Linked DNA regions of Homo sapiens. The protein of the gene in region 3 purifies or fractionates together with the protein of the main gene of each other region. This does not show direct contact. Each region holds a gene or a part of one and is shown on either strand. Other genes may lie near its edges. The genes, in order: GNA11, HEXB, ABCE1, SUCLG2, TMPO, ZNF207 and MMS19.

Region 1 (3,500 bases), on a different chromosome or scaffold from region 3:
GACGGAAAGCCACCAGGAGGGGGTGGACCGCGCACTGCGCCACCTACGGCAGTGTCTGAAGCAGCCCGGAGGGCTCGGGCCAATGGAGACCCTGGGGTCGGGATACGAGCCTCCCAACCTCTATCCTCTCTGGGGTCTCAGGGGACAGAAATGACCCAGCACAAGAGAAAGTCCCAGGACGAGGACTCCAGCTGGTTCGGGGGGTTTGTAGTAGAGCTGTCCAGAGACGGCCACCAAGGAGGGAGACGGTGACCCAGGGCAGGGGACTTCCCGAGAGAGGCCTGGCTGGCCCCAGGGATGAGGCTTCACAAACAAGCGCATCATTAGGAGAGTCGCAGCTGCAGAGGCTGCAGAGGTCCCAGCAGATCCCCGTGCCCGTCTCCCTGCTGCTCCCTGTACGTGGGTGCGGCACCCACCACGAGCAATGAGCCAGTGTCTACACAGCGCAGCTACTGAAGTCCACGCTTGATTCCGGCTTCCTTGGTTCCCCTCATGCCTTTTCCTGCCCAGCCCTCTGGGTTGGGACAGTTTCCCGTTTTTGACGCCCTGGGCAGTCCTGAGTGGGGCGCCCCTCGAGTGGTCTGCCTGGGGTGGGGGTTGTAAGAGGCCGGGTGCCTGCTCAGACCTTTCCGGCACCGCGAGGAGGCCCTGGCGTTTTGTTCCAAGTGCTTGGTTATCTGGGCCCTCCCACAACCTCCCAGAGGCAGGGAACACACAGAGGACGGGCAGGAGGGGCGGGGGACAGGCCTGTCCCTGTCGCCTTAGGGTCTCTCCCGGTGCTGGGGGAGGGCCGGGGCCTCTGCCTGCCAAGCATGGAGGGCAGCAGTGCACAGCCTGCCACGCGGGGGCCTCCACCTGCGGCCATGGCCCGGCCACCTGTCAGCACACAAGTCACCCCCTATCCCAGGCCCAGAGACTGGGAGAACCCTGACATCAGTCAAGGTCACAGCCAGTCACTAGTGGGAGACGTGGCTCTGGGGACGATGTCCCAGGCAGGAGCGAGACGGCCCAGGTTGTGTCTACCTCCCATCCCACGGCCCTCCTAGGAGACCCTGGGTTTCCCCCACAGGCCACAGGCCGGGCTCCAGCACCGAGGGTGGCCAGGAGCTCACTCCTGACCCAGGGAGGGCAGCGGCAGGGCCAGGCATACAAGCAGGCCAGTGTCACACCAGAGTCCACCGGCTCCTGCCAAGGCGTGGCCCCTCCAGGGATCTGCTCTGGTCCCTCCATCCGGCCAGGTGGCCCGGGCCCACCGCATCCCTGCCCCCGGCGAGCAGGCAGGGGGCACCACAGACGCCGCGGAGGCCTTCCCGAAGGGTCCCAGGCACCGGCCCGCAGCTGCCGTCCCCAGGCCGCCAGCGGTGCGGCCGCACTTACTACTTGGCAGAGTCGGAGAGCTGGTACTCGCGCCTGCGGTCGTAGCATTCCTGGATGCCCGGGTCCTCCCACAGGGTCTTGATGGCACTGACGTACTGATGCTCGAAGGTGGTCACCTTCTCCACGTCCACCTCCCGGATCAGGAGCGCATTGGCCTGCGAGGGCGGGCAGGGGAGACGTCGAGAGCTCGCTGGGGCCACACATCCACCAGAAAGCTTGTGACGGCCCCTCTTCCAGGCCTCGGCTGGCCCGGGCGGCATTCCGCAGGCTGTGCAGTCAGGACCACTGACAGTTCCGTGTGAACACGTGTCAGAAAAACGCGAGGCCGCCTGGCGGTGTGGTTCCTCCGAACAAGGCCCCACAAGCAAAGCCTCCCGGCGGTGCGGTCTGCAGGGTGCCGGGGAGGCCGGGCTTCGATTCACTTCTTAGAGGTGGGGAGGGGACGGTGTGGGGAACAAGCACGTGTAGAACACACACACTTCAAACCCAGGACCCACAGGAGGGCAGTGCAGCGCCGAGCACGACCAAGCACGACGACAGAACTAACCAACAGCCCCAGCACTCGCTGCCTCGAATTCTCCAGACACACCGGGAGGCAGGAAGCCCAGTCACAGGACGTTGCAACCAGCGGCATCGCCTGCAGTGTGCAGCTCCAGACTCGGTTTCTGCCCCGCCGGCTTCTCTCTTTCGTCCGAAAAATGCTTATCAAACATCATCAAGAGCAGATACCACACCCGGTGCTAAGGACGGCGTGTGGCCCCCGAGCTGCCGCACTCAACAGTTTACATGGTGCCCCAACACGAGCCGCCTCCCCCTCACGGAACCCTGGGCGGCGGGTGGCATCAGGCCCCAGCTTGCTGCCCTGTCACAAAGGAAGGCCAACCGCACAGACACGTGCTTGCACACACATGTGAACACCCTTTGGGGCAGACACTGTGGGGGGGCCATCCTTTCCCCTCCTGATGCTCTGTGTCCCCGTCCCCGGGGCGCACAGGCCGACATGACCAGCCACAGTTTGGCTGAGGGACTGGGGAGGGGACATACTGGGTGGGACCCAGATGGGAAAGAAGGGAGCCTTGCCCTGGGCTCTGGGAGCCACGGGGCCCTCCCAGGCCCCCCAGAGTGGAGACTCAGCCCTTGCTTGTCCCCTCTGAGCAACGCTCCCTGCCCCGGACTCCGACTTCAGCCCTCCCCTTGCCCTGCCCCCAGCCTCTCAATCTGGGCTGGGATAAGCACACCTAGGGGGACTTGGAAAAAGAGACACAAACCCCAAAAATCCCACTCCCTGGAAACTTCCAGATTAGACAGCAGCAATCTGCTTCTGCAGAGAGCCAGAGAGCACACCCAGCCTTCCCGACCACACGGACTGTCTCCAGCACTCGGCTCTGCTGCTGCTGCTGAAGCACCATGGGCAACATGGCAGAAATGGGTATGTGCCAATAAAACTTTATCGACAAAATCAGTCTGCAGTTTGCAGATGCGTGTTTCAGAAGCTGATGGAGATCTAAGCCCAAATATGAATATGGACTCTCAGAGAGGGCCACAGCTGGAAGAGATCACAGCGGGAGACAGGGCAAGTGGCAAACCAAGATCTAAGGGCAAGAGCCCTACCCCTGAAAGCAGGGCTACGAAAGCGGGATCAATGGCCCCTCAGCTGAAAGGCCCCAGGGAGGCCACTGGCAGGAGCCACGGCTGCACGGCTGCTGGGCCTGCCCCATAGGGCGGCCACTGGGGCAAACTCTCTGGACGCTTCTCAGAGGGCAAAGCCAGAGTCACCCTGGGACCCAGCAATTCTGCTCCCAGGCGTAGCATGCAACTGAGGGAAGGGAACACATCATCCACATAAACACACGTCCACAGACGGTCACGGCAGCTCCGTTCCCAACAGCCCACACATGAAGGCACTCAAATGTCCTCCAGGGGATAAATGGGCAAATACGCGGTCCCTCCATGCACTGGAACATGACTCAGCCATGAACAGGGACGAGGCTCTGACACAGGCCACTGTGTGGATGCACCTTGAGGACGTCACACTCAGTGAGAGACGCCGGACACAAAAGGCCACATGGCGTGCAATCCCATTTCTATGAAATGTTCAGGACAGACCGATCCACAGAGGCAGG
Region 2 (3,500 bases), on a different chromosome or scaffold from region 3:
TTTGAAACCAACAAGAACAAAGACACAACATACCAGAATCTCTGGGACACATTCAAAGCAGTGTGTAGAGGGAAATTTATAGCACTAAATGCCCACAAGAGAAAGCAGGAAAGATCCAAAATTGACACCCTAACATCACAATTAAAAGAACTAGAAAAGCAAGAGCAAACACATTCAAAAGCTAGCAGAAGGCAAGAAATAACTAAAATCAAAGCAGAACTGAAGGAAATAGACACACAAAAAACCCTTCAAAAAATTAATGAATCCAGAAGCTGGTTTTTTGAAAGGATCAACAAAATTGATAGAACGCTAGCAAGACTAATAAAAAAAGAGAGAAGAATCAAATAGACGCAATAAAAAATGATAAAGGGGATATCACCACCAATCCCACAGAAATACAAACTACCATCAGAGAATACTACAAACACCTCTATGCAAATAAACTAGAAAATCTAGAAGAAATGGATAAATTCCTCCACACATATACTCTCCCAAGACTAAACCAGGAAGAAGTTGAATCTCTGAATAGACCAATAACAGGAGCTGAAATTGTGGCAATAATCAATAGCTTATCAACCAAAGAGTCCAGGACCAGATGGATTCACAGCCGAATTCTACCAGAGGTACAAGGAGGAACTGGTACCATTCCTTCTGAAACTATTCCAATCAATAGAAAAAGAGGGAATCCTCCCTAACTCATTTTATGAGGCCAGCATCATCCTGATACCAAAGCCGGGCAGAGACACAACCAAAAAAGAGAATTTTAGACCAATATCCATGATGAACATTGATGCAAAAATCCTCAATAAAATACTGGCAAACCAAATCCAGCAGCACATCAAAAAGCTTATCCACCATGATCAAGTGGGCTTCATCCCTGGGACGCAAGCCTGGTTCAATATACGTAAATCAATAAATGTAATCCAGCATATAAACAGAACCAAAGACAAAAACCACATGATTATCTCAATGGATGCAGAAAAGGCCTTTGACAAAATTCAACAACCCTTCATGCTAAAAACTCTCAATAAATTAGGTATTGATGGGACATATCTCAAAATAATAAGAGCTATCTATGACAAACCCCCAGCCAATATCATACTGAATGGGCAAAAACTAGAAGCATTCCCTTTGAAACCTGGCACAAGACAGGGATGCCCCCTCTCACCACTCCTGTTCAACATAGTGTTGGAAGTTCTGGCCAGGGCAATTAGGCAGGAGAAGGAAATAAAAGGTATTCAATTAGGAAAAGAGGAAGTCAAATTGTCCCTGTTTGCAGATGACATGATTGTATATCTAGAAAACCCCATTGTCTCAGCCCAAAATCTCCTTAAGCTGATAAGCAAATTCAGCAAAGTCTCAGGATACAAAATCAATGTGCAAAAATCACAAGCATTCTTATACACCAATAACAGACAAACAGCCAAATCATGAGTGAACTCCCATTCACAATTGCTTCAAAGAGAATAAAATACCTAGGAATCCAACTTACAAGGGATGTGAAGGACCTCTTCAAGGAGAACTACAAACCACTGCTCAATGAAATAAAAGAGGATACAAACAAATGGAAGAAAATTCCATGCTCATGGGTAGGAAGAATCAATATCATGAAAATGGCCATACTGCCCAAGGTAATTTATAGATTCAATGCCATCCCCATCAAGCTACCAATGACTTTCTTCACAGAATTGGAAAAAACTACTTGAAAGTTCATATGGAACCAAAAAAGAGCCCACATTACCAAGTCAATCCTAAGCCAAAAGAACAAAGCTGGAGGCATCACGCTACCTGACTTCAAACTATACTACAAGGCTACAGTAACCAAAACAGCATGGTACTGGTACCAAAACAGAGATATAGATCAATGGAACAGAACAGAGCCCTCAGAAATAACGCTGCATATCTACAACTATCTGATGTTTGACAAACCTGAGAAAAACAAGCAATGGGGAAAGGATTCCCTATTTAATAAATGGTGCTGGGAAAACTGGCTAGCCATATGTAGAAAGCTGAAACTGGATCCCTTCCTTACACCTTATACAAAAATCAATTCAAGATGGATTAAAGACTTAAACGTTAGACCTAAAACCATAAAAACCCTAGAAGAAAACCTAGGCATTACCATTCAGGACATAGGCATGGGCAAGGACTTCATGTCTAAAACACCAAAAGCAATGGCAACAAAAGCCAAAATTGACAAATGGGATCTAATTAAACTAAAGAGCTTCTGCACAGGAAAAGAAACTACCATCAGAGTGAACAGGCAACCCACAATATGGGAGAAAATTTTCGCAACCTACTCATCTGACAAAGGAAATATCCAGAATCTACAATGAACACAAACAAATTTACAAGAAAAAAACAAACAACCCCATCAAAAAGTGGGTGAAGGACATGAACAGACACTTCTCAAAAGAAGACATTTATGCAGACAAAAAACACATGAAAAAATGCTCATCATCACTGGCCGTCAGAGAAATGCAAATCAAAACCACAATGAGATACCATCTCACACCATTTAGAATGGCAATCATTAAAAAGTCAGGAAACAACAGGTGCTGGAGAGGATGTGGAGAAATAGGAACACTTTTACACTGTTGGGACTGTAAACTAGTTCAACCATTGTGGAAGTCAGTGTGGCGATTCCTCAGGGATCTAGAACTAGAAATACCATTTGACCCAGCCATCCCATTACTGGGTATATACCCAAAGGACTATAAATCATGCTGCTGTAAAGACACATGCACACGTATGTTTATTGTGGCACTATTCACAATAGCAAAGACTTGGAACCAACCCAAATGTCCAACAATGATAGACTGGATTAAGAAAATGTGGCACATATACACCATGGAATACTATGCAGCCATAAAAAATGATGAGTTCATGTCCTTTGTAGGGACATGGATGAAATTGGAAATCATCATTCTCAGTAAACTATCACAAGAACAAAAAGCCAAACACCGCATATTCTCACTCATAGGTGGGAATTGAACAATGAGAACACATGGACACAGGAAGGGGAACATCACACACTGGGGACTGTTGTGGGGTGGGGGAGGGGGGAGGGATAGCATTGGGAGATATACCTAATGCTAGATGACGAGTTAGTGGGTGCAGCGCACCAGCATGGCACATGTATACATACGTAACTAACCTGCACATTGTGCACATGTACCCTAAAACTTAAAGTATGATAATAATAAAAAAAAGAAATGCTTTAAATTTTAAAAAAAAATTCACATTTCTCCAACTGTCTTTTTCTCTTATTTAAAAAATTATTTTAAAACATTTGCAGTGGGATACAAATAAGCTCCATAATTGTGGTGAGTTAATATGTCTAGTAATTCTTTTTTGATCTACAGGTCTGCTCTTCCCACCTTTTTCTCCTGTAATTGTTGTTGAAGAAACTGAGTCATGTGTCCTACAGTTTCCCACAGTCTGGGTTTTGCTGATTGCACCCCACAGTGTCAATTAATATGTCCCTGTATTTACTATAA
Region 3 (3,500 bases):
AAGGTGATTATGGTTTGAACTCATTTTTAAATTGACAAGACAAACATTGAAGTAGGACTGTAAAGACTGACTTGCTGTGTTTTTTTTAAACGAAGTCACTTAGTTCTTTGAGCCTTTATTTTCCAAAATAAGTTAGGTATTTGAACCAAGTGGCTGCTAAGGTTCCTTTGAGTTTATGTTTTTATGTAATTGTTTTTATTTAATTTTTTAACTTCACATTTATAGGTTTTAGATAGTTTAAGATCAAAAAACATGCTGATTTTGGCAAAATAAATGTAATCTGTTCATTTGTTCTGTCAGCAAAGATGTATTGAACACCTGTGTTCTAGGATGAGGATACAGGCTGCATGATGTGTCTCTCAGTTCCAAATAAAATGAATAACGTCAAGACCTTCCAAGAAACTTCAGCTTTCTCTTCACTTAAATATAGGAAACACTGAAATATGGATTATTCATTGTTTCTCAAATACGCTTTTCATTTCAGTGTGTCTGCCATTGTAGATCTTAAAATTTTATTACAGAGGGTTCTTGTATACAATGTGGATTTAAGTTATTAAAATCTGTTTAGATAATGGTTGTTATCTTTGTACAGTGAAGCCATTAAAAAAATGTTAACTGGAATTAGCTCATATTCAATTTCATATGAACCTGCAGGATTAATTTTTTTAAAGCAATAAATTATAACCTCAAAATATGTGCTTATGTCTCATATGAAATTAAATATTGATAACATTGTATATTAAAAAATTTATCCCCCAAACTTTTATATCAATATTACATCAATCTGAAAATACTCTTACATATTTGTCATTTTCGCTTTAAAGATAAAGCAAAAAGGACATCATGTGCTCTCTTTTGCATAAAACCTGATGGAAAAAGTAATTACAGGATAATGAGAAGATGTACTTCATGTGGTTGGGGGGGACATGCATATATATTCATGAATTATTTAAACTTACATTAAATATATATAGTTTTTTAAGTTACTTCTTTATATGCAGACCAACATGTTAGCAAAAATCCACAGAAATTTAAAGTATATAGTCTATAGATTGCTCCCAAGAGAGCTTAGGATTTTGGCTCTAATGATTTCTCCCGGTTGACAATTTTCTTCCCAACAGGCATAAACATTTTTTTGGATGGCTATGTTCCAACAGAAAACTTGAGATTCAGAGATGCATCACTTGTTTTTAAAGTGGCTGAGACAGCAAATGAAGAAGAAGTTAAAAAGATGTGTATGTATAAATATCCAGGAATGAAGAAAAAAATGGGAGAATTTGAGCTAGCAATTGTAGCTGGAGAGTTTACAGATTCTGAAATTATGGTGATGCTGGGGGAAAATGGTAAGTTTTCTGTTTTGTGATAAGTAAAAATCTTCCTGTTTATCTAGTAAATTAGTTTTAACTGTTTTGTGGAAAAATTTGAATCATATGTTATAGGGCTAGAAGCAGAGTTTTATTTAAACCCACAAATTTCTTAGTGTACTTTCACATTTTTTTGGCATTGTGTAATTCAATTTCACTGTAATTCAATCAGGTTAATAGTTCTTATTTTGTTTTATAACCTCTAGTGAAAATAAGGTGTTCTTTGTCAGCTGGTTTTTTACATGTAAATTGATAAGGCAGTTATTAATCTTATAAATTGACTAAGATGGAAAGGATAAATGGTGATTCAGAAATAATCCAGCTTTAAAAATTTTTTCCTCATACACTTCAATGTGGAACTTTTCTTATTTTAAATTCAGAGCAATCTACCTTTGTAAATAATTGTATTACCAGCATATATTTCATAATAAATTGTCATAAGTGTAGATATAAGATGAATTTGACTACTAAATATGTGATATTGCCTTCATGATTTAAGAACTATTTGAATTGTAATCTTACAGCTTACAAAACTATAGAAGATAAATTTTATATAAAGATTGTTACAATGTATCAGTCTTTAGATAATGGGAATTTTGAATTGGGTTGCAATTAATTTAAATATTTTATATAAGTAAACTTTAAAATTACAGTTATCTTTCATAAAACAGTCTATACTGTCTTAATAAATTGTGTGCCCTGATAATTTAGCTAAGTAGATCTTTTCAAACTATTGCAGGATTTAAACTTTATAGACATACCATTTATTAAAATTGTCATAAGCTTTGACTAGTCTTTATTCCTCTTAATTACCTTAGAATGACACTTCAGAGGTGAGCCATGAAAGACTTAAGTATTTTTCTATATAAACTTCAGAATTCAATAATGTCAGTGTATATCTTTAAAACAAATTTCTCAGTTAAAACCAAATAGGACATAGTGATTTACTTTAAACGTCAAGCATCTTTCAGATCAAACTGTCATATGTTGTGTTGCCAGGAACGGGTAAAACGACATTTATCAGAATGCTTGCTGGAAGACTTAAACCTGATGAAGGAGGTACATTTGTAACTGTTGAGTCTTTTTACTCTGTTTTACACAGTAAACTTTAAAGATCTGGGCAGTTTTTAGTGTCTTATGTATTTCATTATTTTGCAGGAGAAGTACCAGTTCTAAATGTCAGTTATAAGCCACAGAAAATTAGTCCCAAATCAACTGTGAGTTATTATTTTTTATATGGTTACTAAAGAAAATTTTGTATATATGCCTATAGCTTTCATCTTTTACTATATTAAAATTTTTCTCCAAATTAGATTCTATACAGTTTTATTGATAGTTGCAAACAAATGTATTAAGAGTCCAATCCTTGATTCATATCCACTGCTAAGAAAGTGCTTTAAAGATATTTGTCATCTTTGGCCGGGTGCAGTAGCTCACGCCTGTAATGCCAACACTTCGGGAGGCCTAGGCCAGCAGATCACGAGGTCAGGAGATCGAGACCATCCTGGCTAACATGGTGAAACCCTGTCTCTACTAAAACTACAAAAAACTAGCCGAGCGTGGTGGCAGCGCCTGTAGTCCCAGCTACTCAGGAGGCTGAGGCAGGAGAATGGCGTGAACCTGGGAGGCAGAGCTTGCAGTGAGTGGAGATTGCATCACTACACTCTAGCCTGGGCGACAAAGCGAGAGTCTGTCTCAAAAAAAAATAAAAAAATAAAGATGTTTGTCATCTTTTTGCTAAATAAATAATTAAAAACCTAATGTATTTTGTGCTGCAAATTGACAACAGCAAGAAGGTGAAAAGGCTTTACCCACAAGATGGGAGAAACATTTGCACATCATATATCCAATAAAGGACTTGTATCCAGCATGTATAAAGAACTCTTATAATTAAAAATGAGCAAATGTCTTTTAGTTATTCAGCCATAAAAAGAAATGAAATATTAACAAATGCCACAGTCCTTGAAACCATTCTGTTAAAGTTAACCTCCTTTGATTTCTGCGGGTGTTGTAATGAACTCCTCAGTACCTCAACATTCAATTTATGTTTTGTCTACTTGGCTTAGCTTACCATAAAAGTTTTGTCATTGATGCTCTCTATAAGCTTAGCTTTAAATTCTAAAATTCAGCCTTATC
Region 4 (3,500 bases), on a different chromosome or scaffold from region 3:
CAAACCACTATTGAAGACACCTTTTCCTCTTCCTCCAGCTAAGATCTGGGCTTTTAAAACAATTTCTTTTGCATCTGAAAAAGAAAAATCCAGAGTTGGTAGCTGATTTTAAATTCTTTTTTTGTTTTTTAAGCAATAAGGAAAGCAATAATGGCACATAACTTCCAAGTAACTGGTAAAAGCTCTCTCAAACTAACTTTGAAAATAAATGCAATGAAGAACTTCAAAAAAACATCTATGAGCCTAAATACAAAGCTTGTTTACTGAGGATATTCAAATGCTTCCTACCAGTTTAATCATCTAATACTTGACCTTCCCAAGGGAAAGCAAGACATGTGTTCCCTTGCTCTTTTGAGTGTGTCAGAAGAAGCTAAATAAATCCTGGAAGGAGGTATTAATTTTACTGTGTAATGGCACTCCCATGTGGCAGAGGCACCAGTTGGCCAGTAAGAGGAGCTAACCATCAGAGATGTCAAAGGGAAGACTGGATTATGCGGGGGAAGGTTTAAAGACAAGACACAAAGGTCATAGTTAATAACTGCATTATTGGAAACCAACAGTTTTCTGAGCAGTTGTTCTATATACTGATAGGGTTGGGAAAGGGAGGAGGAAATGGATTAAAACTAAAAGCAAGCAATATTTTAAAATCATTGGCAAGGTAACAAAATATCCTGGGGGAAAGTGGTTGTGGAATCTTTGTTTCTCATCACACTCCACGAATGAAAGAACTCTCTAATCTTGACTTTTTAGACGAGAGTTATTAACACAAATATCTTCCCTTGCAGGGAAGTTGGGTGCATGAAGTAGCCCAGTGACAAATGGGGCCTTTAGCAAACAGGGTAGCTCCCCTCCCCAACCACCAAAACAAAACAAAACAACAACAAACAAAAAACTGCCTCCAAATCAAATATGTTTAATAAACCAAATAGCACACAACTGCAGACCACAGCTGATATCCTCTGTTTGTGAGTCATCTTTATTTAAAATCACAGAACCCAGCTGATCCCCTATAAGGCCATGAGAGTATTCTGGTTCAGTATACCAGATTTAGAATCTGCAAACCCAGGTTTCAATCTGGCCTTCATCCCTCACCCAGCTGTGTGACATTAGGCAAGTTACTTAATGTCTCTGAAACTCGGTTTATTCAACTGTGAAATGATGACAAGGGTTGTTTTAAAAATTAAATGAACACACATGAATGCTTTATCCCAGAGCCTGAAAACTTGTGATTAATTAAAAACTATTGCCTCGACCAGTTAGTTCATTTATTACCTTTGTATATTGTAAAGAATGAAAGGAATCATTACAGAGATGGCTAAACCAAAAAACTAACAAGCGCTCCATTAAGTTTGGTTATTTCAGCTATTACTGTCACTGTCATCATCATTGTTACCCACAGGCAAGCAGGTAAAGGTTCAAACGGAAAGAGCTGTGGAAGGTTTTATCATCAAGGCAATGGGGAGCTACAGAAGTATTTTACAGAAGGCATTCAGCCAGCTGATGTCACACCATTGAGGCTCCTTCACTGCCTTCATTGGTTAGTCTTCTTGTCTCCTATATTTGCTTACACTCAGAAAGCTGAAGCCCACCTTCTTCTCAGAAGCAAACACAGTTTTTTCTTAGAAGGCTGTCCTGTGTACCCTCTGGCAATAATTTCTGCCCTGGATACGAACCATCACAACATTGGTCAAGCCCTGTCTTATAATAAACTGGTTTCCATCAAGCTGAGTAGAAGACAAATTAATTGTCAGAAACTCACAAGGAAAGCAACCAAGTAAAATGAATACATTGCATATTTAGCTTACTGCAAGAACAGTAGTAAGAGCAAGGATATTGGAGTTAAACAGACCTGGTTAAAATCTCCAACTCTACCTATCACTTTCTTTGTAGAGAAGAAACAACTGAGATTCAGAAAGGTAAAAGTAGCATGCCCTTCTGTAAAGTAGTCATATTAAAGAAGTCTACAGTGTAAGGATGATGTGAAGAATAAATGAAATACAGTAAAGTGCCTGGCACATTTTTTTAAAGTCAAAATATGATAGCTATCAACATTATAATAATTTTCAGCAATTAAGAAAAAATGGCACACAGGAAGACATTTCCTGTTTTTCTTTGGAAGACATCAAGTGGAAAAAATACTTTTTGCTGTCTACTCAAATTTTTAATTGTGATCACTTCAAATTCTTTACATAACTGGCATTCCATTGCCATTATCATTTTTCATATCCTTGTCATCCTGAAGAGATGCTTTCCTCTCTGAGCTTTCCAGCAGCAAAACTTGAAAGCCAGAGAGAATACCTAATTGGGCATTGTTAATTGGCACTACATAGGCTTGATTAGATCAGCTTTAGTCACTAACCATCAAGACACAGAAAGAGTTGTATCCTCAATGAAGTGTTGTCAATTAAACGTGTCGCCATTTGACCTCCAGTCAAAGTATTCCATGCAAAACAGTGTTGGTAGAACAAGCAACCAGTTCAGAGACTATGAAACCAGAGATCAGGACAAATAGAAAAAGACAACAACCTACGCACATCTGCAACATACACCCCAGGCCAAAAATGAGTTCACTAAAATCATCTCTTCTGATTACATCTCAAGTGCTAAATCAATATAGTAAGTCAGCAAGTCAGCAGCCCAAAGTAAAGCAAGTTTTTCTCATCTTGAGAAAAACTCTCATGAAGTAATTTAATTCAAGGCTTATTTACTCAAGGTGCTGAAAATTAAGATGACAAATCCCACTCAACAGTAACTCGTCTCTTCATTCAGTATTTACCAAATTGATTCACATGTACTAAATGTCACTGTTTCTATTTATTTAAAGATCTGATCTCTCCCAAAACTCAAATTTCTGTTTTTATTTAACATTGCCTCTTGCCCCAATCCTGAACGGTATTAGAAAAGAAAAAAAAATCCCATATATGAAATGCAATTTTTGTCTGAATAAGACGACTTAACCATCCTTTAGAAAAACAAGCTAAAAGGACAGAGGAAAAAATTAACTCTAATATGAGTTGGGGTTTTATTTTTGTTTTTTGTTTTAGACAGAGTCTCACTTTGTCACCCAGGCTGGAGTGCAGTGGTGTGATCTTGGCCCACTGCAACCTCTGCCTCCCGGGTTCAAGCGGTTCTCCTGCCTCAGCCTTCTGAGTAGCTGGGGTTACAGGCACATGCCACCATGCCCAGCTAATTTTTTGTATTTTTAGCAGAGATGAGGTTTCCCATGTTGCTCCAGCTGGTCTCAAACTCCTGAGCTCAGGCAATCTGCCCACCTCAGCCTCCCAAAGTGCTAGGATTACAGGCATAAAATAGATTTTATATAGAAGTAGACAACAACCTAGACATTGATAATTATATTATTGGACTCTGAGTTGGTATAACTTGGGTCTGGATAACTCCAAAGTCTTTGCTCTTAATTGCTATTTTTATACGCAGTAGCCTAAGTATGCAACGTCTTCACTAAATTTTGTTCCTTTCTTAGTGAGTTTCTGAAAATAACC
Region 5 (4,262 bases), on a different chromosome or scaffold from region 3:
CCAGCTACTCAAGAGACTAAGGCAGGTGGATTGCTTAAGCCCAGGAGTTCGAGACCAGTCTGGGCAACATAATGAGACTCTGTCTACCCACCGACTTTTAAATAAATAAGTGAACGAACTGTTCTTTTGGGAGCAGTTTAATTCCCCTAAGCCCACCAGTAAATATTCTTGAAAGTTGAATGAGTTTCAAAATTGCGATTGGTAAATGGAGGATTTTAAATAAATCACTTACTTACTACTTAAATTCATATGTTAAAATCTAAACGAAAATCTAGTGAGAAATAGTTTTTCCCCCCTAAGTTTCTCTTTTCTAATTGAAAAGGCTGTGTTTATGTATCTTAATTTTTAACTGAAAGAAACACAGCCAAAACTGTTTTGTTTTTCCTCTTTACTCCTAAACATGAGCTTTGAAGAGCCTTTAAGAAGGCAGGTTTAGTGACTATTTATCAGTGTTCTGAATATTCTTTTCTAATAAAGGATGCATCGAACTTTTTTTTTTTTTTTGAGACGGAGTTTTGCTCTGTTGCCCAGGCTGGAGTACAGTGGCGTGATCTCGGCTCACTACAACCTCCACCTCCTGGGTTCAAGCGATTCTCCTGCCTCAGCCTCCTGAGTAGCTGGGATTACAGGCACCCACCATCATGCCCGGCTAATTTTTGTATTTTTGTAGAGACAGAGTTTCACCATGTTGGCCAGGCTAGTCTTGAACTCCTGACCTCAGGTGATCTGCCCGCCTTGGCCTCCCAAAGTGCTGGGATTGCAGGCGCGAGCCACCATGCCCAGCCCATCTAACTTTTAAAATAGAAAATATGTAGAAGTTTTAAATAGGTTGACTGACCTCACTGCTTTATATGTATCAATTTTCTACTGTTACCTCAGGGAATGTGCTTGGAATTAGGAGTGGCAATGACATTTTATGTTATTTCTCTAAATCATGCCTTTATCTAAAATTATTTTTCTTTTCCTCCTTTCACTCCCAACAGTGCTAGTTGCCGCAGACCAATCAAAGGGGCTGCAGGCCGGCCATTAGAACTCAGTGATTTCAGGATGGAGGAGTCTTTTTCATCTAAATATGTTCCTAAGTATGTTCCCTTGGCAGATGTCAAGTCAGAAAAGACAAAAAAGGGACGCTCCATTCCCGTATGGATAAAAATTTTGCTGTTTGTTGTTGTGGCAGTTTTTTTGTTTTTGGTCTATCAAGCTATGGAAACCAACCAAGTAAATCCCTTCTCTAATTTTCTTCATGTTGACCCTAGAAAATCCAACTGAATGGTATCTCTTTGGCACGTTCAACTTGGTCTCCTATTTTCAATAACTGTTGAAAAACATTTGTGTACACTTGTTGACTCCAAGAACTAAAAATAATGTGATTTCGCCTCAATAAATGTAGTATTTCATTGAAAAGCAAACAAAATATATATAAATGGACTTCATTAAAATGTTTTTGAACTTTGGACTAGTAGGAGATCACTTTGTGCCATATGAATAATCTTTTTTAGCTCTGGAACTTTTTGTAGGCTTTATTTTTTTAATGTGGGCATCTTATTTCATTTTTGAAAAAATGTATATGTTTTTTGTGTATTTGGGAAACGAAGGGTGAAACATGGTAGTATAATGTGAAGCTACACATTTAAATACTTAGAATTCTTACAGAAAAGATTTTAAGAATTATTCTCTGCTGAATAAAAACTGCAAATATGTGAAACATAATGAAATTCAGTAAGAGGAAAAGTAACTTGGTTGTACTTTTTGTAACTGCAACAAAGTTTGATGGTGTTTATGAGGAAAAGTACAGCAATAATCTCTTCTGTAACCTTTATTAATAGTAATGTTGTTGTAGCCCTATCATACTCACTTTTTAAGACACAGTATCATGAAAGTCCTATTTCAGTAAGACCCATTTACATACAGTAGATTTTTAGCAGAGATCTTTTAGTGTAACATACATATTTTAGAGAATTGTTGGCTAGCTGTACATGTTTTGAAAAGCTGTTTAGCTAGCTATAAGGCTATAATTGGAAATTTGTATTTTTTATTTACAGCAAAACATTTATTCAGTCATCCAGTTTGCTACCAAAATATGTTTTAGATAAGTGTGTGTATGTTTGTTTAGAAGTTAGAAATTGTAAACACTGGTCTTATGTTTCATTTGGATTCATTATTGCATTGTCTTGTTACCAGAAACAAATTTTGCCGAGCTTTTTTTGCCCTATATTTCCCAGCATAATTTGATTAGAAAGTACAAAAAGGGCCAGGCGCGGTGGCTTACGCCTGTAATCCCAGCACTTTGGGAGGCCAGGGCGGGTGGATCACGAGGTCAAGAGATCAAGACCATCCTGGCCAACATGGTGAAACCCCGTCTCTACTAAAAATACAAAAAAATTAGCTGGGCGTGATGATGTGCGCCTGTAGTCCTGTCTACTAGGGAGACTGAGGCAGGAGAATCGTTTGAACCCAGGAGGCAGAGGTTGCAGTGAGCAGAGATTACGTCACTGCACTGTAGCCTGGCGACAGAGCAAGACTCCATCTCAAAAAAAATAAAAAAGTACAAAAAGTACTTGCTTTTATATTACATCATAAGCAGTAGTTAATAAAGTTGTATACTCTTAAGAGGTGGGCATTATGATTATTTTTTATTTTTTTATTTTTTATGAGATGGAGTCTCACTCTTGTCACCCAGACTGTAGTGCAGTGGCACGATCTGGGCTCGATGCAACCTCTGCCTCCCAGGTTCAAGCAATTTTCCTGCCTCGGCAGAGACGGGGTTTCACCATGTTGGCCAGGCTGGTCTCGAACCCCTGACCTCAAGTGATCAGCCCACCTCAGCTTCCCAAAGTGCTGGGATTACAGGTGTGATCCACTGCACCCGGCCGGCATTATGATTTTGTGTACTCTTGAAATGGTTATCTTTGTGGATGATTTTTTTTTTTAAGCTGAAACTTACCTCATGAATAACTTGATTAAAGTAGTAGGTGATTAAAATTTCAATAGAATCAAATGAGACAAAAATTTTAAACTGACTCATTTGAGTTTCAACTTTACAGTCATTGACCATAAAGCACACTAAAAATGTAAGTTATTTTTAAATACATCTGAAATAAAAATACTTACTAAAAAGGAAGAAGCCGAAGATGTATATTTAGACCAGCACACAATTTTGATTTCAATTAGCCTTATTCTAATATTTAGCTTTTAGATCTTTCATACACATTTTCACGTACTTTGCAATTGAGACCAGAAAGACTTGTAGGTCTTTCTGCAGAATGAGTGGGTCCTTGCAAAGTGAGTGGGAAACTTACTCCTAGATCAGAAATGTTTGCCTCTCTGAGTAAAATGTTTCTTTCAGATGAGCCATAGAGGGGGCACCTTTTACTCAACTTTTCTTTGTTTTGAAACTTTGTTTCCCATACTGTTTTCAGCCTTTTGTTTATAATTAGAAATTGTGAGAAGCTTCATTTAGTGTTTAAAAATGTGGGGAGATAAATCAGACTTAACATGTATGTAAGATCAATTCACTTAAAAGTATGGTCCAAATAGCAAAAATAGGACCAGGTGAAACATGTAGTCATTTTTTAAAAACATGTACTTGGTCTTTTGTGTGTGTCTGTTTTATTCCATTAGAATAAATGTGTCCTTGATGTAAATGCAAAGCATTTCTTCCTGATTAAATTGTAGATGTAGACTTTACAATATAATTCAATAATAAAAAGTAATTAACCTCTAGTTTTGTCGTTGCAATAAATGGTTTTCAGATAGCACAAACTGTGATTTCTGGATAACATTTCTTATGTGATATTTATGGATTATTGTGTTTTATTTCAGTCTGTTCATATGTTTTACTTCTTATTGTAATCGGGTTCTCGTTTATTCAAAGGTAAGCAATGTGTAGCTACTGTACTCACAGAATGACATTAAGCGCTCCAAGGCACCTCTCCCACACCTAGTTCCTTTTTCCCACCACTTTTACTGTCTTTAGTATTTACCTATGACCCTTATGATTGTTAGTCTTGCTTTGAGACTAAGCCCGTGTCACTGTGATACGTCATGGAGCTGTGCTCACAAGATGAAAGTGCCATTATGTCTTCCTCATTCATGTGTCCCCAGAGGTGATTTGACTTAAATTAGTGTTTCTCAAGGTAGTATAGACACCATAATTAATTATAAGGCAAATCGCATCAAAGGCTTAAAACAACAAGTTTTATTGCATGCTTACCATGTGCTAGGTACTTTTCTATGTGCTTAATATGTATTGATTCACTCAA
Region 6 (3,500 bases), on a different chromosome or scaffold from region 3:
ATTTAGGCTAATGACTTAGATATATTTGCCCAAATAATACTCATTTTTTCTTTCCTCCTAAGACATTTTCATGTACGAACAGAAAAGTAACTACAAAAAGCTAAGTATTTTCTTCTTAGCAATGTATCTCACTTAAAGATTTGAAACTGGGGCATGCAAATCAAACTCAGAAATTATCTTAATATCTGATTGTTAAAAGCTATTCCTTATATTGCAATTAAAATATTTATGGATAAAGCGGCTTAACAAGTGACTTAATTGCCGTTTCCTAAGGTTTTTTGGAATATTTTGCTATTCTTAATAAAGAGATGATGCAACAGGCATTCTATAAACAATTACATTCACATACACACTAATCTTCACTACATTTTTGAGAAGGGCAACAATTAAAGGTGTATCTATTATGGTACAGCCAGAATTAGATTTCTTGGGACCCTGCCAAGCAAAGTCATAGCGTCTTGGTTGAAAAGACAGGAGCAAGCACTGATGAGAAACTGCAGGGAACCACCTAACTTACTAATAATGTCTTAGGGTTTATCATCTATAAAATTGGTATGATTTAACTGCCAGGTCTATCTCACAGGTTGCTGTGAAAATAGGACTAAATAAAGGCACTCAGACAATAATGTTACTAAGTTTCTCAACTAACCTTGAAGCTTCCACTCCACTTCTCTGCTCTTCATAAAGTGCAACTCCCTAAGAATGCCTTCGCTTCCTCTCCCTGTCTCTTCAAAGCACCGTAATCACACTTCACCCTCACCACTCTTGGAAATCGCTCTTTGTCAAGTCACCAATGACCTTATTAACCCAGTCTCAGTACTCTTACTGAACCAGCATTTGACTCAGTTAAATAACTCACTCCTTGAAACACGTCATTGACTTCCAGGGCACTACTCTTGGTTTTCCTACCTTTCATCTCCTTAGACGATTCCTTTTAATCTCCTGACCTTCAAATGTTGGAAGTGGCCTAGAGCAGAGAGCACCTAATTTCCAACCACACTACAGTCCTTACAAAGGACATCTGGTAGCGCGGCTTAAACTAGCCACCCTTACATTGTATGCGTCCAAATTTCTATCTCCTGTTTTAATTTCTATGAACTCCTGACTTGTACATCAAACTGCTTCGGTAACCTTTTCATCTGGATATTTAATAGACCTCAAACATACCTACACTCAAAATTAACACAGGACTCCCTTATTCTCATTCTTAAGCCTATTATCCCTGTAGCTTTTCACATCTCGTCATATGCTCAAAATAAACATTTTTGAGACAGGGTTTCACTCTTGTAGCCCAAGTTGGAGCTGAGTAGTGCTATCACGGCTCACTGCAGTCTCGTCCTCCCCAGCTCAAGCGATCCTCCTGCCTCAGCCTCCTGAGTAGCTGGGACACAGGCACGTGCCACCATGCCCAACTTTGCATTTTTTGTAGAGACAGGGTCTCATTATATTGCCCAGGCTAGTCTCGAACTATTAGGATCAAGTGATTAGTCCATCTCGGCCTACCAAAGTGCTGATTACAGGCGTGAGCCACCGCACCTAGCCAGACCATCTTGAGATCAACATCTTGAGACCACCCTTAACTCCTCACTTTTTCTTATACCCCATATCTAACCTATCAAACTCTGGTCTCTGTCACCATCTCCTCTTGTCTGGAATATTCTAAGTCTTCTAAAGTGGTCTCACCGTACTCTGCACTTTACTTTCAACCCTGCAGCCAGAAAAATCCTTTTAAAAAGTCTTACAGGCTGGGCGCAGTGGCTCACGCCTGTAATCCCAGCACTTTGGGAGGCCAAGGAAGGTGGATCAGGAGGTCAGGAGTTCAAGACCAGCCTGGCCAAGATGGTGAAACCCCATCTGTACTAAAAATACAAAACAATTAGCTAGGCACAATGGCAGGCGTCTGTAATCCCAGCTACTCGAGAGGCTGAGGCAGGAGAATTGCTTGAACCCGGAGGGCAGAGGCTGCGGTGAGCCGAGATCACGCCCACTGCACTCCAGCCTGGACGAAAGAGACTCCGTCTCAAGAAAAAAAAAAAAGTCTAATAGAGGCCAGCTGCAGTGACTTATGCCTGTAATCCCAGCACTTTGGGAGGCCAAAGTAGATGGGATCACTTGAGGCCAGGAGTTCAAGACCACCCTGGCCAACGTGGTGAAGCCCCATCTCTACTAAAAATACAACTCAGGCAGGCACGGTGGTGCATGCCTGTAATCCTAGCTATTTGGAAGGCTGATGCACAAGAATCACTTAAGCCCAGGAGGCGGAGGCTGCAGTGAGCACAAGACAGAGCAAAACTCCGTTTCAAAATAAAACAAAAAAAAAACTGACAGAGCATACATCTCTATTTAAACCCCTATTTCATTCAGAATTAAAGAAAATGGCCGGGCTCAGTGGCTCACAACTGTAATTCCAGCACTTTGGGAGGCCGAGTGGGAGAATCGATTGATCCTGGGAGTTGGGCGACCAGCCTGTGCAACATAGTGAGACCCTGTCTCTACAAAAATAAAATTTTAAAAATAGCCAGGTATGGTGGTACACAATTGTTGTCCCAGGTACTCAGGAGGCTAAGGTGGAAGGATCATTTGAGTAAGGGAGTTCAAAGTTGCGGTGAGCTATGATCTGCACTCCAGCCTGGACAACAGAATGAGACCCTGTCAATCAATCAAAACAAAATGTTCTTATCCACACTACCCAATATAAGTTAGCTACTTGACAGAGAAACTGAGCATTTAGATATTTATATCATTTTAAATAGCCACATGTAACTAATGGCTGCAACAGTGAACAGCTGTGAGTCTAACATGTAGTAGGTTCTCTAACAATTTTTTTTTTTTTTTTTTTTTTTTTGGAGACAGAGTCTCTGTCACCCAGGCTGGAGTGCAGTGGCACAAACTCAGCTCACCGCAAACTCTGCCTCCCGGGTTCAAGTGATTCTCCTGTCTCAGCACCCGCCTCGCGCCCCCCGCCCCCAGCCCTCCCCCCGCCCCCGTAGCCAGGACTACATGTGCCTGCCACCATGCCCAGCTAATTTTTGGTATTTGTAGAGATGGGGTTTCACCACGTTGGTCAGGCTGGTCTTGAAACCCTGACCTCAGGTGATCCACCAGCCTCGGCCTCCCAAAGTGCTGGGATTACAGGCGTGAGCCACCACATCTGGTCAACATTTTAAAATGAATATTAAATTATTGTTAAAGTATCTGGAGTGAAAAGGATCTATATAAATTTATCTTTAAACCTGGAGAAATCACGTCTCCCTACCTCCCACCCATAGTAGTTTCCAATGATTTGGTATTTGCTCATCTCATATTTCTGTAAGGTCTAATTTAGCAAAAATTCAGACAGCTCTAGGACTAAGCAAAGTAGAATAATGTTGAATGAGACATGAAGGTACTTACTAGATCTTAAAAAATATAAATTACAATGCTCTCGCTATTTATTAAAAGAACTTTAAAAACCTAGAAATTATTGTCATTATTATTATTATTGAGACAGAGTCTCACCC
Region 7 (2,599 bases), on a different chromosome or scaffold from region 3:
ATGTTTGTATTTTTTGTAAGAACTGGGTTTGGCCATGTTGCCCAGACTCCTAGACTCAAGCAGTCCACCTGCCTTGGCCTCCCAAAGTGCTAGGATTACAGGCATGAGCCACCACACCCGGCCCCATCCTTATCTTTGGCACTTAAGATTCTTCTTCCCTGATGTACCTCAAAGGCTCTTTTTTCTCCAGCTCATGGGCCTCCTGAGTGACCCAGAATTAGGTCCAGCAGCAGCTGATGGCTTCTCTCTGCTCATGTCTGACTGCACTGATGTGCTGACTCGTGCTGGCCATGCCGAAGTGCGGATCATGTTCCGCCAGCGGTTCTTCACAGATAATGTGCCTGCTTTGGTCCAGGGCTTCCATGCTGCTCCCCAAGGTGAGGAGTCTGAAAGAAGGTCCCCACATATACACATCTCTCCTTTGCTTGGCCACATTCCCTAAGATAATTTAGGGCCCGCTTGCTTCTTTAGAGCTATATTGTGGTCTGTGCCTAGAAGACTAAACTTCTAGATTCTTGTCCCACTTCTTCCTTTCATGGGCGTATCTTGCTTATTCTGAGCGTGAAGGGCTCTTTCACCCGTTTGTAGGCTGATGTCTCAGCCTCACCACAGATTGGAATTGATTTCTCAAGCTATATATCTAAGTCCAATTTCTCCCCTAAGCCTTTCCATTTTTTACAGATGTGAAGCCAAACTACTTGAAGGGTCTTTCTCATGTACTTAACAGGCTGCCCAAGCCTGTACTCTTGCCAGAGCTGCCCACGGTAAGTCCCACAGGCAGAGCTTCTAAGCAAAGGACAAAGCTATTCTTCCCCAGATGGGGCTAGAAAGGGGAGGGAACAAGAACCAGGATCTTCATGATGTGGCCATCCCCTACCTTGCCCATTGCCCCTTAGCTTCTTTCCTTGCTGCTGGAGGCCCTGTCCTGCCCTGACTGTGTGGTGCAGCTCTCCACCCTCAGCTGCCTTCAGCCTCTTCTACTGGAAGCACCCCAAGTCATGAGTCTTCACGTGGACACCCTCGTCACCAAGTTTCTGAACCTCAGCTCTAGCCCTTCCATGGTGCGTTGAGCCCCAGCAACTCTTAGGCACCAGCATCTCTCCCTGGGCATGCTCTCACCTCCTTGTGGTTGTGTTCCAGGCTGTCCGGATCGCCGCACTGCAGTGCATGCATGCTCTCACTCGCCTGCCCACCCCTGTGGTAAGTACCTCAGGTGTCCTTCCCTGGCCTGGGAACATCTCAAGAGACACATAAGTACCTTTTTGCCTTAGTCAGGTGGGCTTGGCCACCCTGGTGTGTAATTGAGATCTGAATTACAAGGTACAGATCTTGTAATTCTGGGCCCAAGGATTCTTTTCCTTGGGCCCAGAAGGTAACAGAAAGGCCATCCTGCCACTTAACATCCCTTGGAATCACTAAAGATGTTTTGCTTTCCTCAGAATATTAGTTGTACAGAATCAAAAAAGCGGTACTTTCAGTTGCCTTGGATGAGCAAGGTTGATTATATCCTCTGACTCCACAGCTGCTGCCGTACAAACCACAGGTGATTCGGGCCTTAGCCAAACCCCTGGATGACAAGAAGAGACTGGTGCGCAAGGAAGCAGTGTCAGCCAGAGGGGAGTGGTGAGTTTCTAGGTCGTGGGGAGAGATGGGACCAAGATGAGCCTCATCACTAATGCTGCCAACTTTCTTTTTGCCTACAGGTTTCTGTTGGGGAGCCCTGGCAGCTGAGCCCTCAGTCCTGGCCTAGACTGTTCTGACAATCTAACCTGGGATTACTAACTGTTGAGCCATCTTCCCCAAAGCAGGGAAACCACTGGTCTCTGACTGCCTTTCCCACAGACACAGCACAAATGCTAGGCCTCTGTTGCATGGCTGTACAAAGAACATAAGAGTCCATATTTCTAGTGGATTTGTAAAATAAGTGTGTGTGAGACACTTGCGTTTGAAGAAAGATCTAGGGTCCTGGGTCTCTTGCATTTATATGTCAGAAAAGGGGCGATATGCTGCTGAGGGGTGAGTGCATATGAGTGTGGCCCTGAGGACCAGGGCTGGCAGATGTTGTCTACCTGCTGAAGAATAAAGATTTCTTTTGGTAATGGGGCTGTCAGATATTTCCCCCACCCCACATATGCCTCATATAACCAGAGGCATCACTGGAATAACAATGACAGGGATTGGCCAAAAATTTTTCAGGGTAACCAGGACAGTAGCACATGCCTGTAACCCCAACACTTCAGGAGGCTGAGGCAGGCGGATCACTTGAGGCTAGGAGTTTGAGACTAGCCCTGGCAGTATAGCAAGAACCCATCTCTACAAATAATTAAAAAAAAAAAAAAATTAAGCTGGGCATGGTGGCTGACGCCTGTAATCCCAGCATTTTGGGAGGCCGAGGCGCATGGATCAGTGGAGGTCAGGAGTTCAAGACCAGACTGGCCAACATGGTGAAACCCCATCTCCACTAAAAATACAAAAATTAGCCAGGTGTGGTGGCATACGCCTTTAATCACAGCTACTTGGGAGGCTGAGACACAAGAATCACTTGAGCCGGGCGCGGTGGCTCACGCCTGTAAAGCTTGTAATCCCAGCACTTTGGGAG

Evidence for each region.
Region 1: the proteins of ABCE1 (region 3) and GNA11 purify together in Homo sapiens (affinity purification with mass spectrometry, with the first as the bait; one study listed by BioGRID). This does not show direct contact.
Region 2: the proteins of ABCE1 (region 3) and HEXB purify together in Homo sapiens (affinity purification with mass spectrometry; 2 studies listed by BioGRID). This does not show direct contact.
Region 4: the proteins of ABCE1 (region 3) and SUCLG2 purify together in Homo sapiens (affinity purification with mass spectrometry; 2 studies listed by BioGRID). This does not show direct contact.
Region 5: the proteins of ABCE1 (region 3) and TMPO purify together in Homo sapiens (affinity purification with mass spectrometry, with the first as the bait; one study listed by BioGRID). This does not show direct contact.
Region 6: the proteins of ABCE1 (region 3) and ZNF207 purify together in Homo sapiens (affinity purification with mass spectrometry, with the first as the bait; one study listed by BioGRID). This does not show direct contact.
Region 7: the proteins of ABCE1 (region 3) and MMS19 purify together in Homo sapiens (affinity purification with mass spectrometry; 2 studies listed by BioGRID). This does not show direct contact.

The regions. Positions count from the first base shown.
Region 1 is NC_000019.10:3,111,362-3,114,861, reverse strand, and holds part of GNA11 (guanine nucleotide-binding protein subunit alpha-11), read right to left. Parts: intron 1,533-3,500; coding exon 1,378-1,532; intron 1-1,377. UniProt on the Homo sapiens protein: Guanine nucleotide-binding proteins (G proteins) function as transducers downstream of G protein-coupled receptors (GPCRs) in numerous signaling cascades.
Region 2 is NC_000005.10:74,709,233-74,712,732, forward strand, and holds part of HEXB (beta-hexosaminidase subunit beta isoform 1 preproprotein), read left to right. Parts: intron 1-3,500. UniProt on the Homo sapiens protein: Hydrolyzes the non-reducing end N-acetyl-D-hexosamine and/or sulfated N-acetyl-D-hexosamine of glycoconjugates, such as the oligosaccharide moieties from proteins and neutral glycolipids, or from certain mucopolysaccharides.
Region 3 is NC_000004.12:145,118,811-145,122,310, forward strand, and holds part of ABCE1 (ATP-binding cassette sub-family E member 1), read left to right. Parts: intron 1-1,121; coding exon 1,122-1,343; intron 1,344-2,363; coding exon 2,364-2,423; intron 2,424-2,522; coding exon 2,523-2,581; intron 2,582-3,500. UniProt on the Homo sapiens protein: Nucleoside-triphosphatase (NTPase) involved in ribosome recycling by mediating ribosome disassembly. Able to hydrolyze ATP, GTP, UTP and CTP. Splits ribosomes into free 60S subunits and tRNA- and mRNA-bound 40S subunits.
Region 4 is NC_000003.12:67,529,113-67,532,612, forward strand, and holds part of SUCLG2 (succinate--CoA ligase [GDP-forming] subunit beta, mitochondrial isoform 2 precursor), read right to left. Parts: intron 75-3,500; coding exon 1-74. UniProt on the Homo sapiens protein: GTP-specific succinyl-CoA synthetase functions in the citric acid cycle (TCA), coupling the hydrolysis of succinyl-CoA to the synthesis of GTP and thus represents the only step of substrate-level phosphorylation in the TCA.
Region 5 is NC_000012.12:98,546,590-98,550,851, forward strand, and holds the end of TMPO (thymopoietin), read left to right. Parts: intron 1-983; coding exon 984-1,269; 3' UTR 1,270-3,762; downstream 3,763-4,262. UniProt on the Homo sapiens protein: May help direct the assembly of the nuclear lamina and thereby help maintain the structural organization of the nuclear envelope. Possible receptor for attachment of lamin filaments to the inner nuclear membrane.
Region 6 is NC_000017.11:32,353,157-32,356,656, reverse strand, and holds part of ZNF207 (BUB3-interacting and GLEBS motif-containing protein ZNF207), read right to left. Parts: intron 1-3,500. UniProt on the Homo sapiens protein: Kinetochore- and microtubule-binding protein that plays a key role in spindle assembly. ZNF207/BuGZ is mainly composed of disordered low-complexity regions and undergoes phase transition or coacervation to form temperature-dependent liquid droplets.
Region 7 is NC_000010.11:97,457,824-97,460,422, reverse strand, and holds the end of MMS19 (MMS19 nucleotide excision repair protein homolog), read left to right. Parts: intron 1-190; coding exon 191-377; intron 378-681; coding exon 682-764; intron 765-896; coding exon 897-1,061; intron 1,062-1,140; coding exon 1,141-1,200; intron 1,201-1,522; coding exon 1,523-1,623; intron 1,624-1,703; coding exon 1,704-1,731; 3' UTR 1,732-2,099; downstream 2,100-2,599. UniProt on the Homo sapiens protein: Key component of the cytosolic iron-sulfur protein assembly (CIA) complex, a multiprotein complex that mediates the incorporation of iron-sulfur cluster into apoproteins specifically involved in DNA metabolism and genomic integrity.